Linked DNA regions of Homo sapiens: region 2 is reported to be linked to region 1. Evidence: microRNA targets listed by miRTarBase, many of them from high-throughput screens and not tested one by one. Region 1 holds a microRNA gene; the other region holds the end of a gene's coding sequence.

Evidence for each region. The annotated mature microRNA hsa-miR-7-5p reads UGGAAGACUAGUGAUUUUGUUGUU and lies in region 1 at 4,898-4,921, shown strand. An mRNA with a match to its seed (bases 2 to 7 or 8) in the 3' UTR can be bound and repressed. Matches are read on the target gene's strand: a 7mer-m8 pairs with bases 2 to 8, a 7mer-A1 pairs with bases 2 to 7 and ends in A, and an 8mer does both.
Region 2: the mRNA of PTAR1 is a reported target of hsa-miR-7-5p. Seed matches in the 3' UTR shown: 7mer-A1 at 7,842-7,848.

Annotation. Positions count from the first base shown.
Region 1 is chr19:4,765,803-4,773,994 of GRCh38, forward strand. MIR7-3 (microRNA 7-3) reads left to right here and starts at 4,868; the gene lies at 4,868-4,977. MIR7-3HG (MIR7-3 host gene) reads left to right here and starts at 3,303. Exons shown (of 3, transcript NR_027148.1): 1 at 3,303-3,549; 2 at 3,828-3,955; 3 at 6,362-6,754. RefSeq lists a silencer at 3,735-4,029.
Region 2 is chr9:69,711,886-69,720,077 of GRCh38, reverse strand. PTAR1 (protein prenyltransferase alpha subunit repeat containing 1) reads left to right here. Exons shown (of 8, transcript NM_001099666.2): 7 at 1,394-1,428; 8 at 1,510-8,192. The coding sequence ends at 1,736. Among named protein-coding and RNA genes, the nearest start is that of APBA1, 44 kb to the right of the region's middle.

The DNA.
Region 1 (8,192 bases):
GCCTGAGCCAGGAGGCAGAGACTGCAGTGAGCCATGATTGCACTACTGCACTCCAGCCTGGGTCACAGACTAAGACTCTGTCTTAAAAAAAAAAAGGTCTTTCTTCCTTTTTTTTTTTTTTTTTTTTTTTTTTTGAGAAGGAGTCTTGCTCTGTTGCCCAGGCTGGAGTGCAGTGGCACGATCTTGGCTCACTGCAACCTCCTTCTCCCGGGTTCAAGTGATTCTCCTGCCCGAGCCTCCCAAGTAGCTGGGATTACAGGCACCCGCCACTATGCCCAGCTAATTTTTTGTATTTTTAGTAGAGACGAGGTTTCACCATGTTGACCAGGCTGGTCTCGACCTCCTGACCTCGTGATTTGCCCGCTTTGGCCTCCCAAAGTGCTGGGATTACAGGCATGAGCCACTGTGCCCAGTCAAAAGGCCTGCTTTCCTTTCTCTCTCTCTCTCTCTCTCTCTCTCTCTCTCTCTCTCTCTCTCTCTCTCTCTGTCTATTTTGAGATGGAGTTTTGCTCTTGTTGCCCAGGCTGGAGTACAATGGTGCAATCTTGGCTCATTGCAACTTCAAACTCCTGGGTTCAAGCGATTCTCCTGCCTCAGCCTCCTGAGTAGTTGGGATTACAGGCATGCACCACCATGCCCAGCTAATTTTTGTATTTTTAGTAGAGATGGGGTTTCAACATATTGTCCAGTCTGGTCTCAAACTCCTGACCTCAGGTGATCCACTTGCCTTGGCCTCCCAGAGTGCTGGGATTACAGGCATCCAGCCAAAAAGAACTTTCTTTCTTTTTCTTTCTTTCTTTCCTTCTTTCTTTTTCTTTCTTTCTTTCTTTCTTTCTTTCTTTCTTTCTTTCTTTCTTTCTTTCTTTCTTCTTTCTTTCTTCTTTCTTTCTTTTTCTTTCTTTTTTCTCTCTTTCTCTTTCTCCTTCCTTCCTTTCTTTGTTCTTCTTCTTCTTTTTTTTTAACAGAGTTTTGCTCTTATTGCCTAGGCTGGAGTGCAGTGGCACAATCTTGGCTCACTGCAACCCCCACCTCCTGGGTTCAAGCGATTATCTTGCCTCAGCCTCCCAAGTAGCTGGGATTAGAGGCACGTGCCACCATGCCGGCTAATTTTGTATTTTTAGTAGAGTCAGGGTTTCTCCATGTTGGTCACGCTGTTCTCAAACTCCCGACCTCAGGTGATCCACCCACCTCTGCTTTCCAAAGTGCTGGGATTACAGGCGTGAGCCACCATGTCCGGCCCTTTTTCAATTTTTTTATTATTTTTATTTTTTTTATACAAGGTCTCGCTCTGTCACCCAGGCTGGAGTGCAGTGGCATGATCTTGGCTTACTGCAACCCCTGCCTCCCGGGTTCAAGCGATTCTCCTGCCTCAGCCTCTGTAGTAGCTGGGACTACAGGCACCCGCCACCGCACTCGGCTAATTTTTGTATTTTTAGTAGAGACGAGGTGTCACCATATTGGCCAAGCTGGTCTCGAACTCCTGACCTCAGGTCATCCACCCGCCTCGGCCTCCCAAAGTGCTGGAATTACAGGGGTGAGTCAACGCACCTGGCTGGGATCTATCTCATGGGGCTGCCCTGAGGCCTTCAGATCACTCAGCAGGTAGAATGTCTGGCACTGACCCTGGCACAGAGTAAAAGCTTAGGGAAGGGGAGAGAGAAAGGGTGGCAGGTCTTCCTGTGCAACCTGAGGAACTTCACTTTTGTCCTGGCCTGAATGATCAGGTCCTGTACAGCTGTCCCTGATTTATATCCTAACTGTCCCTTCTATGCTTGCTCACCCCCCAGGGCCTGTTCTTTCCCCCACCCCCACCAGGGCCCTTACACTGACTGTTCCTTCAACCCAATGCCCATACCAACATGTGAGCAGAGTTTTCATGTCTTTACCCTCCCTAAAGGCAAGGTTGGTTGCTGAATTCATGTATGTATCTCCAGTGCCTAGTACAACAAGTTTGTTGAGCAAATAAATGGGTGGAATAGATCAGGAAAGAATAACAGCTGCATTATTAGAAAACTTACCGTAAACAGACATGATTGCTAGTGCCATGCCAAGCCATATTGGGACCTCAGGCAAAAGGAAAAGTCAGAAAGGCTGGTTCTGCCTTTATTTACATTTTTGATATTTTGTTCATTGTGGATTTTGGCATACATTTTGATTTCTTAAAACATTGCATCGATTTTTTTTTGAGACAGGGTCTTGCTCTGTCACCTAGGCTGGAGTGCAGTGGTGCAATCATAACTCACTGCAGCTTCGACCTCCTGGCCTCAAGTGATCCTCTCACCTCAGCCTCCCAAGTAGCTGAGACCACAGGTGCCATTCTCTCTCTCTCTCTCTCTCTCTCTCTCTGTTTCTCTCTTTCTCTCTCCCTCTCTCCCTCTTTCTCTCTCAGAAACGGGGTCTCACTATGTTGCCCAGGCTCATCTTGAAATCCTGGCCTCAAGTGATCCTCCCACCTTGGCCTCCCAAAGTGCTCAGATTACAAGCATGAGCCATTGCACCTGGCCTGAAATATTATTTACCTTGATTATTGAGTTTTTTGGTGCCCCTTTAAGTTTTGCACCTGAGGCTGGTGCCTCACCCAACTCACATTAGCCCCTGCCCTGATTATTTCTAACATGCAATCCACACCATATCATTAGTTCCTCAGCAAATACTCTACTATTATCACTACTTCACAGTTGCAAAAACTGAGGCACAACTGTGCCCAATGTCCCAAAGGAAGGAGAAGAAAAATCTGAACTTGAACCCCAGTTTCTTCGTTTTTTGGTTCAGAGCCTGCCCAGTATAGCACTACAATAAGCTGAATTTTATAAATTGGGTTTTGAGTTAAGGAATCAAAAGCTTCAGGCTTAAGTCCCACCTCTGCCCCAGAGTCTTCTGAGCCCTCCATTTTCACAGACGTCAGTTGCCCTAGGTGGAACTGGACTTTAATATTCTCCACATCCCTTATTTTTTCCCAAAACAGTTTACCAGCTTTTTCTTTCCTGAACCAGGAGCAATAGCAAAAATTGGGAATGGGAAGAAACAGGTACCAGCCAGGACACCTGAACGAACTTGGAGCTCAGGAACCCAGGAGGGGATTGGAGAGAGTGGGGAGACTCCATGGTCCACAATGAATGCTCCTTCCCCATCCGAAAAAATCCCCTAGCCCAGTTTTTGGGCAGATGCCAGACTTTTATTCTGAAGCGTGGGCCACAACCTATGAGGTAATCTTTGGAGCTTCATTCTGAGGCGGAATCCCATTGGCCAGTTGGGGAAGCCCCTCCCAGGATTCCTGGCGCTCCGCCTTCCCTGAAGCCTATAAAAGCGCAGGTCCCCGCCTCGGCAGCCACGGGACACCTGCATCTGCCAACAAGACTGGAAGCAGGTGAGGCACACAGAGGGGGAGGCCCGCAGCTGCGTGGGAGGAGGGGTGGTCTGAGGGACGTGGGATGCCGGGAATGAGGCTGGTTTGCAGGTTGGCGCATGGACATTTTCCCAGAAAGGGACAGAGACGGCGAAGTTTGACGGTCTGGAAAGCAGAGACCAGCAGGGCTGACTGCTTGGGAGGTAAGTTCTGGGGACATGGTACAGGGTGAGGAGCAGGTATCAGTGCTAGTTGCGACCCCTCTGTGTCTCCCCCCCGCCACCCCATTGCCATTCTGAAGCTCCCCAGGAAGAAGCTAGGAGGGGAAATAAATTGAGTGGGGGTGGGGTTTCCCAAGAATCGGAGGAACCGAGAACGAAGAGGGGTGGGGGAACGGGGAAAGAGAGAGGAAAATCAAGTTTTCTTCAGCACGAGGGACAGCTCTCCACCGACCGAAGGAGGAGAATGCTATTTATTTCAGCACCAAATATCCGGACAGCGCCTCTCGGGAGGTCCGAGAAGAGAACCGCGATCTGTTTCAGCACCGGGGCTCAGGACAGTTCCCAGCGGGCTCCGTTTCGTCTCCAGAACCCTGGACAGCTCCTCCAGGTAACGGGAGAGCCCTTTGACCCTGATTTTGCAGGGGGAGGACGAGAGAGGGTGGTCTGAGGTGCCTGGCATTTCTGGAGACCTGCACCTCATGTAATGGATTTTTAAACAAAGTATTTTCCAGATAAGCACACACAGAAGTCTGCAATTTTCTTTTTTTTTCGAGACGGAGTCTTGCTCTGTCGCCCAGGCTGGAGTGCAGTGGCACGATCTCGGCTCACTGCAACCTCTGCCTCCTGGGTTCAAGGGATTCTCCTGCCTCAGCCTCCCGAGTATCTGGGATTACAGGCACATGCCACCACTCCCGGCTAATTTTTGTATTCTTAGTAGAGACGGGGTTTCACCATGTTGGCCAGGCTGGTCTCAAACTCTTGACCTCTTCATCCGTCCACCTCAGCCTCCCAAAGTGCTAGGATTACAGGCGTGAGTCACTGCGCCTGGCCCAAGTCCGGAATTTTCAACAGGTAAGATACCTCACTGGGGTAACAGCTGCCTGCTAAGATGACATTATGGTGTCTCTTCCAGACTTCGGTGAGAAACCTTGTGCCAAGCATTTTACATACATCATATCATGCCATCTTCAACCCTAGGACATGGGTGTTACTGTGCCCATGTGACATTTGGGGAACCCAAGGCCCTGAGAAAGGCAGAAAAATAACCCACGCAGGGACTCTCAGCCCACAAGTGAAGCTGTAAGTCAACCCCACCAGTCCAACTCCAAATCCCATGTCTCTGACGTGCCTGGGTGGGAGGTGGGCCCTTGGAGATCAGACCCTGCTTCTCTCCAGGAGAACCGGGAATGGAAAACAGGGAGGCAGCACAGAGGCAGGAAACTCAGGTGTCATAGCTTGGCTCAGGTGAGAAGGAGGAGCTGGGCAGGGGTCTCAGACATGGGGCAGAGGGTGGTGAAGAAGATTAGAGTGGCTGTGGTCTAGTGCTGTGTGGAAGACTAGTGATTTTGTTGTTCTGATGTACTACGACAACAAGTCACAGCCGGCCTCATAGCGCAGACTCCCTTCGACCTTCGCCTTCAATGGGCTGGCCAGTGGGGGAGAACCGGGGAGGTCGGGGAAGAATCGCTTCCACTCGGAGTGGGGGGGCTGGCTCACTCCAGGCGATACAGGCACAGGCAAAGGAGGGAAGCAAACAAGGACATACATCCTGTGCTCATACAGCCATGCACCATGTATGGGGTTTGTCACATCACTCGTACGCCCCCACAAGCCTGGAGATAGAACATACCTGACTCTAAACCCAAGACCTCTAACCACCTTATGGCGCTTTCCTGGGAGACCCAATGAGGGAATGACATTTAAAGCCCTCCCTAGACCAGAGTTCTCAGGGTACTTTTCTATTAAAAAAAAAATTATTATTTTTTTGGCCGGGTGGCTCACGCCTGTCATCCCAGCACTTTGGGAGGCCAAGGCAGGTGGACCACTTGAGGCCAGGAGTTCAAGACCAGCCTGGACAACATGGTGAAACTCCATTTCTCCTAAAAATACAAAAATTAGCTGGGCGTTGTGGCACACACCTGTAGTCCCAGCTACTCGGGAGGCTGAGGCATGGGAATCCCTTGAACCCAGGAGGCAGAGGCTGCATGACCCAAGATTGCACCACTGCACTCCAGCCTGGGCAACAGAGAGAGATTCTGTCTCAAAAAACATTTTTTTTTTCTTTTTTGTAAAGACATGGTCTCCTGCCTCAGCCTCTCAAAGTGCCAAGATTACAGGTGTGAGCCACCGAACCCAGCCTAAGGATACTTTTCAATAAAAGTTCCAGAAGTGGGCTGGGTGTGGGAGCTCATACCTGTAATCCTAACATTTTGGGAGGATGAGATGGGAGGATTGCTTGAGTACAGGAGTTTGAGACCAGCCTGGGCAATATAGTGAGACCCCGTGAGTTGACACATGCCTGTAGTCCCAACTACTTAGGAGGTGGGAGGAACACTTGAGCCTGGGAGATCAAGGCTGCAGTGAGCCATGACTGCACCACTGCACTCCAGACTGGGCAACAGAACAACACCCTGTTTCAAAAAAAAAGTTTCAGAAAAGATTCCTTTCCTGTCTGCTACCCATCAGTGTCATGGGCCAATCATAGGACAAGTGTGAACTTGTGCCCAGTGGTGACTTATGACATCATAAAGGCTCACCACCTTTGCCAGACATGGTGGCTCACACTTGTAATCCCAGCACTTTGGGAGGCCAAGGTGGGAGGATAGCTTGAGCTCAGGAGTTCGAGACCAGCCTGGGCAACATAGCAAGACCTCATCTCAGTAAAAAATAATAAATAAATAAATAAATATATAAGACTCACTCCCAATTCTCTGCAACACCCTAATCAAGTGAAAAACTGCACATGGTTACCTGTTCTCCAGCCTCAGGGCTTTTGCCTCTGCTGTTCCTGCAGCTTGGAATGCACTCCCTCCACCTCCAACCAGAGCTCCCCACAACTGACCCTGCCTTCTTCTGCAAGCTCCATTTCATCAAGGGAAACGATCCTTATTGCCTCACCATTTCCCACGTGAAGTCTGTATTGACATTCTCATAGACCTGGGATATTGTGTCTGCAGCACATAGTCCAATTATTTTCATGTTATCTACTGACAGGTCTATTTGTCTCCCTGTTACACTGTGAGCTCCGTGAGGGCAGAAACAATGTTAGTATTTTCACTGCTGTGTCCCCAGCGCCTGGTCCGGGGCCCGGCACACAGCAGGCATATAATAAGCATGTGTTGAATCAATAAAGGCATCAAAGAATAAACCAATACATCAATCAATAAATGAATGAATGGCCTCAGCACACACAGGAAGATCCTTCTTCTAGGTCTCCCCCAGAGAGATACTGGAGGGCAATGGTTGCTGGAGGTGTTTATTGGGGAAGCATAATTGAATTTGTGGACACTTAAGGGCCGGCCAGCCAACTCACAGCCCCAAGAGAGAGAGCCAGGCTCATTTAATTAGCAATTACAAGGCACTGATTCCTCATTAGCTCTGGCAACCCTCGTCTCCCTCCTCAGCCCCAGACAAATGAAATCTTTCTCTCTCTCCCAGGAGTACTGCCTCAGTGGGTCCATTAACAAGCAGAGAAAATGAGATTAGAAGACACCTAAATGCCAGAGGCACTTTATGAATGGGCTGAGCAGAGGGAGGTTCAATGTCTGGGTTAGGTCTAATTGTGGGAGGTTTCCTGGTCTATTTAGAATTGCCCCCTGGGAATGCAAGGTCTTTCAGAAAGGAAAAGGCACACAGATATTGCCTTCTGGGGTCCTCAATGGAGGAGGACATTCTGCTATGGGTGTCTCCCAGTCACCCCAAATTAATCATTTCAAAGTGAACACTCAATCTGCCCAGCCCCTAGCTTCCTCCCCTGACATGCCCATGAATATGACAGTCCCTCTACATGCCCAAGATCCTCCCCTCCTCATCCACTCCCCATGATCCCCAAGATGAGTCACTGTGCTCAAATCCATCCTCTCTCCTCCAGCCCTCTGCCTCCATGACCTCCCTCCAGCCCTCTGCCTCCATGACCTCCGCCTCCCTGCATGTCCGGATCTCCTCACTGTCTCCCCTCTGAGCATACACACACATACAGCCTGTTCATTCTCTACATGCAGCGAGGGGACTTTCCAGAACACACATCTGACCAAGTTCCACTCCTGCCTGTCACCCTTCCAAGAGCCCCACTGACTGCAGAATAACGTTCAAATATCCGGTTGGGCGTGGTGGCTCATGCCTGCAGTCCCAGCACTTTGGGAGGCCAAGGTGGGTGGATCACTTGCACAGGACCACAGGCGTGTGCCACCACACCCAGCTAATTTTTATATTTTTGGTAGAGACGGAGTTTCACCATGTTGGCCAGGCTGACCTCAAGTGATCCACCCGCCTCAACCTCCCAAAGTGCTGGGATTACAGGCATGAGTCACTGCACCGGTCTAATTTTTTCAGAGTCTCACTCTTGCCCAGGCTGGAGTGCAGTAGCATGATCTCGGTTCACTGCAACCTCTGCCTCCTGGTTTCAAGCGATTCTCTTGGCTCAGCCTCCTGAGCAGCTGGGATTACAGGCACGTGCCACCACACTTAGCTAATTTTTGTATTTTTAGTAGAGATGGGGGTCTCACCATGCTGGCACAGTTGGTCTTGAACTCCTGACCTCAAGTGATCCACCCACCTCGGCTTCCCAAAGTGCTGGGATTACAGACGTGAGCCACCGCGCCCGGCCAGCCTTTATTGATTCTTTT
Region 2 (8,192 bases), not on the chromosome of region 1:
TCCTTTCACTTGAACACTTAGAGGTCATTGTAGGATTATTGCTTGGCCTAATTTCAATATTGTTGTATCTCAGGGAACAGGGAGGCCTGGGGTGAGGGAGAGAGATGGGGGAAGAGCTGGTTGGTGGAGCAATCAGAACACACACAACATTTATTGGTTCAGTTTATCATCTTATATGGGTGTGTTTGTGACACCCCAAAATAGTTATAGTAGTAACATCAAAGATCGCTGATCACAGATCACATAACAGATATAATAATCTTGAAAAAGTTTGAAATATTAGTAATGTTACCAAAATGTGACACAGACAAAAAGTGACCACATTTTGTTGGAAAAATTGTGCTGATAGACTTGCTTGACACAAGATTGCCAAACCTTCAGTTTATAAAAAATACAGTATCTGCAAAGCACATTAGAGCAAAGCATAATATAAACTAGGTATGCCTGTATTACATAGGCCGGTTTTCTACTGCTGACTCATTGTCATTAGGCAGCTTATCTAGCCTTTAAGTTTTACCCCCTGTAAAAGTGGAACATTATGTGCTCCCTGTCTGCTTCAGAATATGCAAGGAAAATGAATAGAATTCTCTTAAGGGCTTAGAGTTGCTAATGTGAATGATGAGATGTAACAACCTAGAAGTTATACAGTTCATTGTACATGGATGTGCCCCCACTGAATTGAAATTTTTGGAGATTAGACGCGGGAATCTTCATTTTTAACAAACAATTGTAGGTGGTTGTAAGGGCAGGAGAATTGCTCTCCTCGGAGGGAGAACAGGAACTGTATCTTTTACATGTTTTGCTCAGAGCCCAGCACATCCCCAATGCATGTGGATGTTTAAAACTGTAGTTGGTGATGGATTTAGGGTAAAGTTCAGTTGACTTTTAGGGAATAAGACCCACTACAACAGATATGTTATTTTTATTAAAGTACTTGATAGAGGCCACAGATTAAGCCTCTAAAGGAACTGTTCATTCCCCTTATTTCTGAATCACTTGTCTTCTAGGATATCAATGAGATTTGTCTTGGTTTTGTTTTATATTTATAACTTATAGCAGAAATAAGACTGTCACATATTTCTAGTTTTATATTACGGTTACCATAGAGTACCATCTCCAAGTCATTGTCATCTCAGTAAATGCTTATGAAAAACCTTAGGACTGTATTCTTTCTCACAAACAAACCTGTAAGCTGGAGTTATAAGGCTTTCTTTGTCCAAATATCCTGGAACATCATCTCTACTGTTTTTCCTCCTTCCTCTGTATAACTTGGTTATGAAATGGGCAGTGAATTGAATACTGTATGTTTTGAAATTGCAAACTTTTTTTTCTGGAAAAGCTTGACTTTGTAATGTGATTTTCTTTATTCTCTTCCTTCCCCTCTCTATCGCAGGCGGCATATTTTCTACCTTCAGCATCACTTAAATGGTAGGTTTCCTCACAGCATGACCCAGTTGTCACCTGCAGACAGCCCTGGGGGGACTTTGAGTGACTTGCACCTTATCCCAGCAGGCTCCCAGCTGTCTCAAGCAATGGAAGTAGATGGACTGAATGACTCTAGCAAGCAAGGCTATTCCCAGGAAACCAAACGCCTGAAGCGGACGCCAGTTCCAGACTCCCTAGGCCTAGAAATGGAGCACAGGTTCATTGATCAAGTATTGTCCACCTGTCGGAACGTGGAGCAAGCCAGGTTTGCCAGTGCATACAGGAAATGGCTGGTTACTTTGAGTCAATGAAAGAGGTGAATTAGTCCTACAAGGTTCCCCTTTTAGTGCAATATTGCTTTCTTTTATTATTTACATAGTTGCATGAACTGTTTACTATTATTGGCTAACCATATGTTCTTCGTCTTTAGGTTGAAAGTCCATAGTAAATCTTTCATTTTATTTATTTTGTTAATAACTGGCATTCCTGTGGGGATAAAATAATCGTATAGTTCCTTCCTGCTGAACAGCGAGTCTTAAATTTTCTGTTTAACTTCTCACCCTTTGTATTTCTATATGTGGGGCTTCTCATTTGGTTTTCCTGATTGGTTCACACACACACACCTCTACCCCCCTCAGTCCAATTGCTGCATAGGCAAATTCTTTTAAAAATTAAAAATTTAAGGCCTAGGCAGGAGGATTGCCTGAGCCCAGGACTTTGAGACCAACCTGGGCCACATAGCAAGACCCGATTTCTACAAAAAGTAAAACAAAATAGCTAGGCATGGTGCTATGCAACTGTGTTCCTAGCTATGCAGGAAGCTGAGGCAGAAGGATTGCTTGAGCCCCAGGTGTTTGTGGCTGTAGTGAGCCATGATTGCACCACTGTACTCAGCCTGGGCAATAGAGTTGAGACCCTGTCTCTAAAACAAATTGAAAATAAACATTTATGTTGCAGTTCAACTGAAGAATGTTGGTATGAATGCCGAATAACTTGATGTAATTGTTTTGAGAATCAAATGGCTAGATGGGCGAATGTTTAAAAATGTAAACTAGTTCTCTTTCTCTAGCATGTTCTACCCAATTACCAAAGTCAGAAGTATTGGAATTTATATGAAAAAAATGCTTCCAATGTAATCCATTTTTTAAATGGTTATTTAAGAAAAAACTAACTTAAGAGTTTATGTAATTGCAGTAAAGGAAAATTATTTTTATTGCTAGTTTTGATAGATTATTTTTACCTCAAATTTGGTATATGCCAAAACACATCAGTCCTTATAAAATTGATTTTTTTTTCCTGAAAACCTGGAATGCCATTTTTAGCTATTACTACTTTTTAATTTCAAATTCACTTATGACAAATGGGAGAAATATATAAAGAAATAGATCCATAAAAATATTCCTTTTTAAAAATCTAAATTATTGAGGATACACTATGGAAACTATAAAATTATCATGAAGTGACTGTTAAAGTTTACTGGCAAATGCCAAGGGAAGGAATAGTATGTGCAAAACAAAACACTTTGATACTGAACTTAATCAGGGATGAGGTACCAAAGTATCCACATTATAGCCGTATCTTATGTTTCCAATAACAAGGGCTGAGTTTTTCAGGTAGGTGGGATGAGGGTGGGGAATGGGCCATGTAATGTCTGCTTTCTTATATTTGCCCTTTTGTAAGTGGTCTGTTTCTTCTTTTCATATACTTTGTTTTGCCAATCCATTACGTATTTTTTGTCACTTTTGTGTGTCATTTTTGTATACCTTTCCTTTCTTACTTCAGGGGTGTGTCTTCAAGATTTCTACCCCCTATTTGCAATGAATTTCATACCTCATCTAAAATACATTCATATACCAGAAATATGAAGAGTGGCCCTTCTAAAAGTTTCCCTAATGATGGAAGCTGTCAGTTGTCCTATCTGTGCAGAATGTGAGTAATAGTGGCAGAAATAAGTGTGACAACAATGCTTTGCCTGTTGTTCTTTTTACTTGCTAGGTAATTTGTAAAGTGGGGATAAAGATGTAGGGAAAGTAAACCTCTCTCTCACTGTTACGGAAAGCCTGGACTTGAGTTAGGTAGACTGCCTTAAAGAAGAAGAAATATGTCCTTTTCTTTGGCATCATGGTTTTGTTGAGTGGCAGACTGTTGAAGTGAGTTGAGACTTAAGAACGCCAGAAAAGTTGTCTAGCCTGGCCCCAGTAGACAGAATTTGTTCTTCTCTCAAGTAAAAAATTACCTTTTTATAGCTTTTATATTATTTAGATGAAAAAATACCATTATGAACATAATTCCATGGCCCTTTGTGTACAAAGCATATTTTGAATTAAATACCTCAAGGTCCACCTAGACCTCTATGGATAAAATCATAAGTTTATGATTTTTAGCTCCTGTGAGTGTTTGGGGGCAAACTACACAGAGAAGACATGGGTGGTTCAGCCCATTCCACTAAAATATGTTGCCAGATTCTGGCCTAACTCAGTATTACCTTTTTTCCTAAAAATCATTTTTCACATTTTGAGTAATAGGGCTTATGCTTTGATGTGAAAAAATGTCAGGAAATGAGTGTAGACAATACCCTATAAAACACTAGCTAAGTTTTATAGTGCTCCATGCCTTTGTGTACCTTCCACTGATTATCTTGCCTATCTTTGGTGTGTAAACTATTTTCATATCTTCTAAGGCTCTTAACCCACTCTTTTCTGAAGCCGCACAGTCCTTTAATATGTCTTGTTTCCTTCCTAAAAGTTTAAAGTAGAGAGCAAAAATGCAAATACCCAAAGGATACTGTTAGTATGTAACTTTTGTGTGCTGCTTTATTTCTAGAGTTTGCATTTTTTAATTGTTCATTCACAGAAAATCCTAATATTGCCCTATATGGTTGGTTTTTTTCCTAAGTGGTTAATATTTAAACCCGCTAGCTGTAGCATGATAATGTCTTTGACTGAGCTTATGTAGTAGAAAGGATGTGTCTGTTTTCTGGGACTTTTAGTCTTCACTTATTTTTCTATAACAATCTAATTGTTAAAAGGAAAAGATGGCTTATTGACACATATTTCATTAAACTTTCACTGGAAGAACAGTGGGTCATCCTACTGTGGATTAAGAATACTACTGACAAGCAAAAAGCATTAAGCTCTGTAACTGTCTCCAACACCACCTTCACCCCGCCTTTAGTGTACCTTAGTGTACTTTAGTGTACCTATTTTGGCAGTACGGTGTTTTCCAGATTCTACTTGTGCCCTGCACATTGTGAGGACTCATTAAATATTTATTAAATTAATGAATGACTAACAGGAAGAGAAAGATTGTTTGTGAGTGTTAAGAATGAGTGATGATTGAGAAATTGATGGATTAGTGCAATGGATTGGGAATGAATGATGCTTTCTAGTTTCGTAATACTTGGGAAGAGCTATTGCATATAGAGTAAGTTGATTTAGACTTTTTTTTTCTTCATTTCATTACCTTGTTTAAACTTGTTAAATCCCAGCCAAGAAATGCAGCTCTGTAATTGTCAATTAACTGTATTATAATATATATTAAAAATTTGTAGAGCTAAAGAACCCACTTGCATTAAGAACACCACTTTCTGTTCATTTGTGATACTAGAGGACAGATCCTGCATACAGAGCCGAAACTGCTTTTAATCATCTGAAGAAATTCTTTGATTTCAGTGACTTACTGATCTGTACCTGTGCACATATCATTTTATGCTTCTCCTTTTTTCCCCGCAACTTGAACTGTGACTCTTTCAGATATTTCTTAAATCTGTATGAGTCATTTTTTAAGCTTAGGGATTTGATATGTATTAATGTCCCCTTTGTCTTCTGTAGATTTTAGCATTTTATTACCTCTTAAGAAACTCTGGGCCCAGACTTTCAGTCATATTTCTTATTCCTATGGTACAGTTCTCACTTAAAGGCTTAATTATTAGTAGGGTTAAATATATACAGGTTATCTCTAAAAGTACTTAAATTTTTAAATAAGGGCTTATGTGATACAAGATACGGAAACAAAAGTTTTTGGATTTTTATGCAGTAGTTTGCAGGAAAGCAAATACATAGTAGATCGTATGCCACTTAGGTATGTTCAGGTCATGCCAGTTTATTCTTGTTGGGCCACACACACATGTATGTGTGTGTAAAAGGAATTTTTAGTATTGAAGCAAACAAATTGTCAGTTTAATAATTTTCTCTTACATAGCACAAGATGGCAGATACCACCTACTGTACAACAATCTAATAATCCCTACCTTAGTTCCCCTGAGTTATAGAAGATGCTAAAGATTTAGTTGTAAAGGGAAGTAACATGATTTTTTTTTTCTAAAAAGCTGTTTTAAGCTAACTATTATTTTGCTACTGGAAAATTATATTTTAAAACTTACAGATATTTAAAGTATGCTAGAAAATTTGAACCTGATAACAACTGAACCTTTTGTCTTGAATAAATTTCTCAAATAGAACTGTGCAAACCCTAGCACTTTATGTGTTGCTGCCTCCCCATACCTAGGTATGCTCTGTAATAAGCTCCCATTTAATGGAGAGATGTGTGGAGGCACTGAGAAGTTAATGAAGAAAAATCAACCCTAAGAATTCCTTATTGTCACATAGTGTCTTTTAAAAAATAACTGTAGAGACTGTGTTAATTCGAGTGCCTTTCTTACTTTTTTGGGAGCAAGATTATATTTAATGTTTAAGAAAACAGGATGGAAGTTTTATCAAACAGTTGATTGTGGCCCATTGTTTTATTTATTCCCATCGCTAGGCATGGCCCCGTAGGGTATTTTATCCTTCAGTGAGAGACTGATATAAGCAGGCAGGATGCTTTGATTATTCCATTAGTTATCATTTTAAGCACCCTACCAAGATTTAGTTCTTTCTTTCTGGCAACTAACGTTTTGGGGGTTGGAGGCATCCCATTTAGAGGATGGTGTGTGCACAAATAGATTAGCCTGAAACCTGCGTCCAAAGGGAAACAGTGGCACTCTGCCCTAAAATAAAGGCCAGAACGTTGTCCTAAATGAATCCTTTGCCTTACTTTAGGACCTTCCTTCCCTCTCAAATTCAGGCATAATGTAATATAGTTGAAAGGGGGAAAACAGTACTTGCTTTCTCTCAGGTATTGGAGGAAAAGAAGTAAATGCGTAGATGAAATTTTAAATGTATCATTTTATCTGTTTGTATATGGAGAAGGGAGGGATAGGAATTCCATATTTCAAGATAGCAAATATAATTTCATAGAAATATATAGCTAAAGATTCCAAAGTGCTTTTACAGAGAACTGTTGAATAATATATTCCTAAAGGGCAGCAATATGCCATGTTCATGGTGAAGACAGAAAACCAATGAATCAGTTGTGGATCTCAGGTGGGAGAGGAAACCTCAGGCTCCCAACTTTGACTTCTCTACTCTCACCAGGCCATGTTAACACTGTAAAACCAAACTCTTTGCTAAGAACAATACAGGGCAGTAGTTTAGTCTGCTGATGAAACCTTGTGCTTCCAAGAATATTAGCTATATATAATTTGTGCTTTCTGGATGATTCTATTGTCCAGAAAGCTAACCCTGACGTTACTTTTATTAGTCTGTTGTTATTCCTCAGGGTGTAGAAGATTTAGTAAATTCAGGACAAATTTTATATTCAGTGGCAAAAAGAAAAGGCAAAAATATGCTAAATATATTATTAGCTCTTAAATTTTAGTATAGATCGTATTTTTTATAAACTATTACCAGTACAGTAGCTAGTAGATATTCTGTGACTGCCTCATTGTTTATCTTGCTGCTTTGGTCCCTATGGCTCTAGTATGAACATTCTCGTGTCTTCTGTGGAAATGATTTCTGTGTTATAGTTCCATCTTTGGTAGAGGTGGGGATGATTGTATTTTGTTTTAGTTGACATCATTCTCAACTTTTAGAAATACTGTTGAGGAAAATGATTACCGTTGGTTTTCAAATTGACAACTATTTTGCTTCCAAAGACTTCAGTTTCCCTTTGTTTTATGTGTAGACCTCATATATGTTCAACACATTGCATACTGCCTTGCACATTGTAGGAATTCAACAAGTCAAGAGTTGATAAAAGCTAGAAAGATAAAACTAGCTTAGCTATCATATCATCATTGTCCATATTCTTAGCTTTGGGAAAAATATACCATTTTGCATAAAATACATAATCAGTTTCAAATGCATAAGGCAAAGATATACAGTTGCACAACATTGCAAGTGAAATTTACAAAGGATTTTTATTTTTGTGTATGCTAAAAGTGCTCCTACTTAAAGCAGTTTTCTTTATTAGACCAACACCTTCCAGCAAAGTTAGAAACCAAACACAAGTGCTCATTTGCCCAAATTAACCAGATAGTTATGTAAACTGTTCATATTAAGTCTTTAGTGGTTTACAAACAATAACATTCTGGCTTTTCTTCCATACCTTTTAGGAATCAGCCTTAATTTTAAGTATAGCAGTCACTTTCCTCAAGGTACTATGCAGCATACTTTAGATTGCTTATTTATCATTATAAGGTGATAGGTAATAAATTTGAGGTTTACTTGTCATATAATTTCATATGGCAGATATTGATTCAAGGAGCATTCTATTAGAAAAAGTTGATAAATTATCCTCCCTTACAAATATCATCTTGCATTTGGAGCAGGTATTTTTTTCTTATTAGTTAAAGACTGGGTACAGTTATAGTAGATGCTCAATAAATGCTTAGTCAGTGATTGATCTAACATCAAACTAACAGCTTTCAGAAAGGAGACTGTTGACAT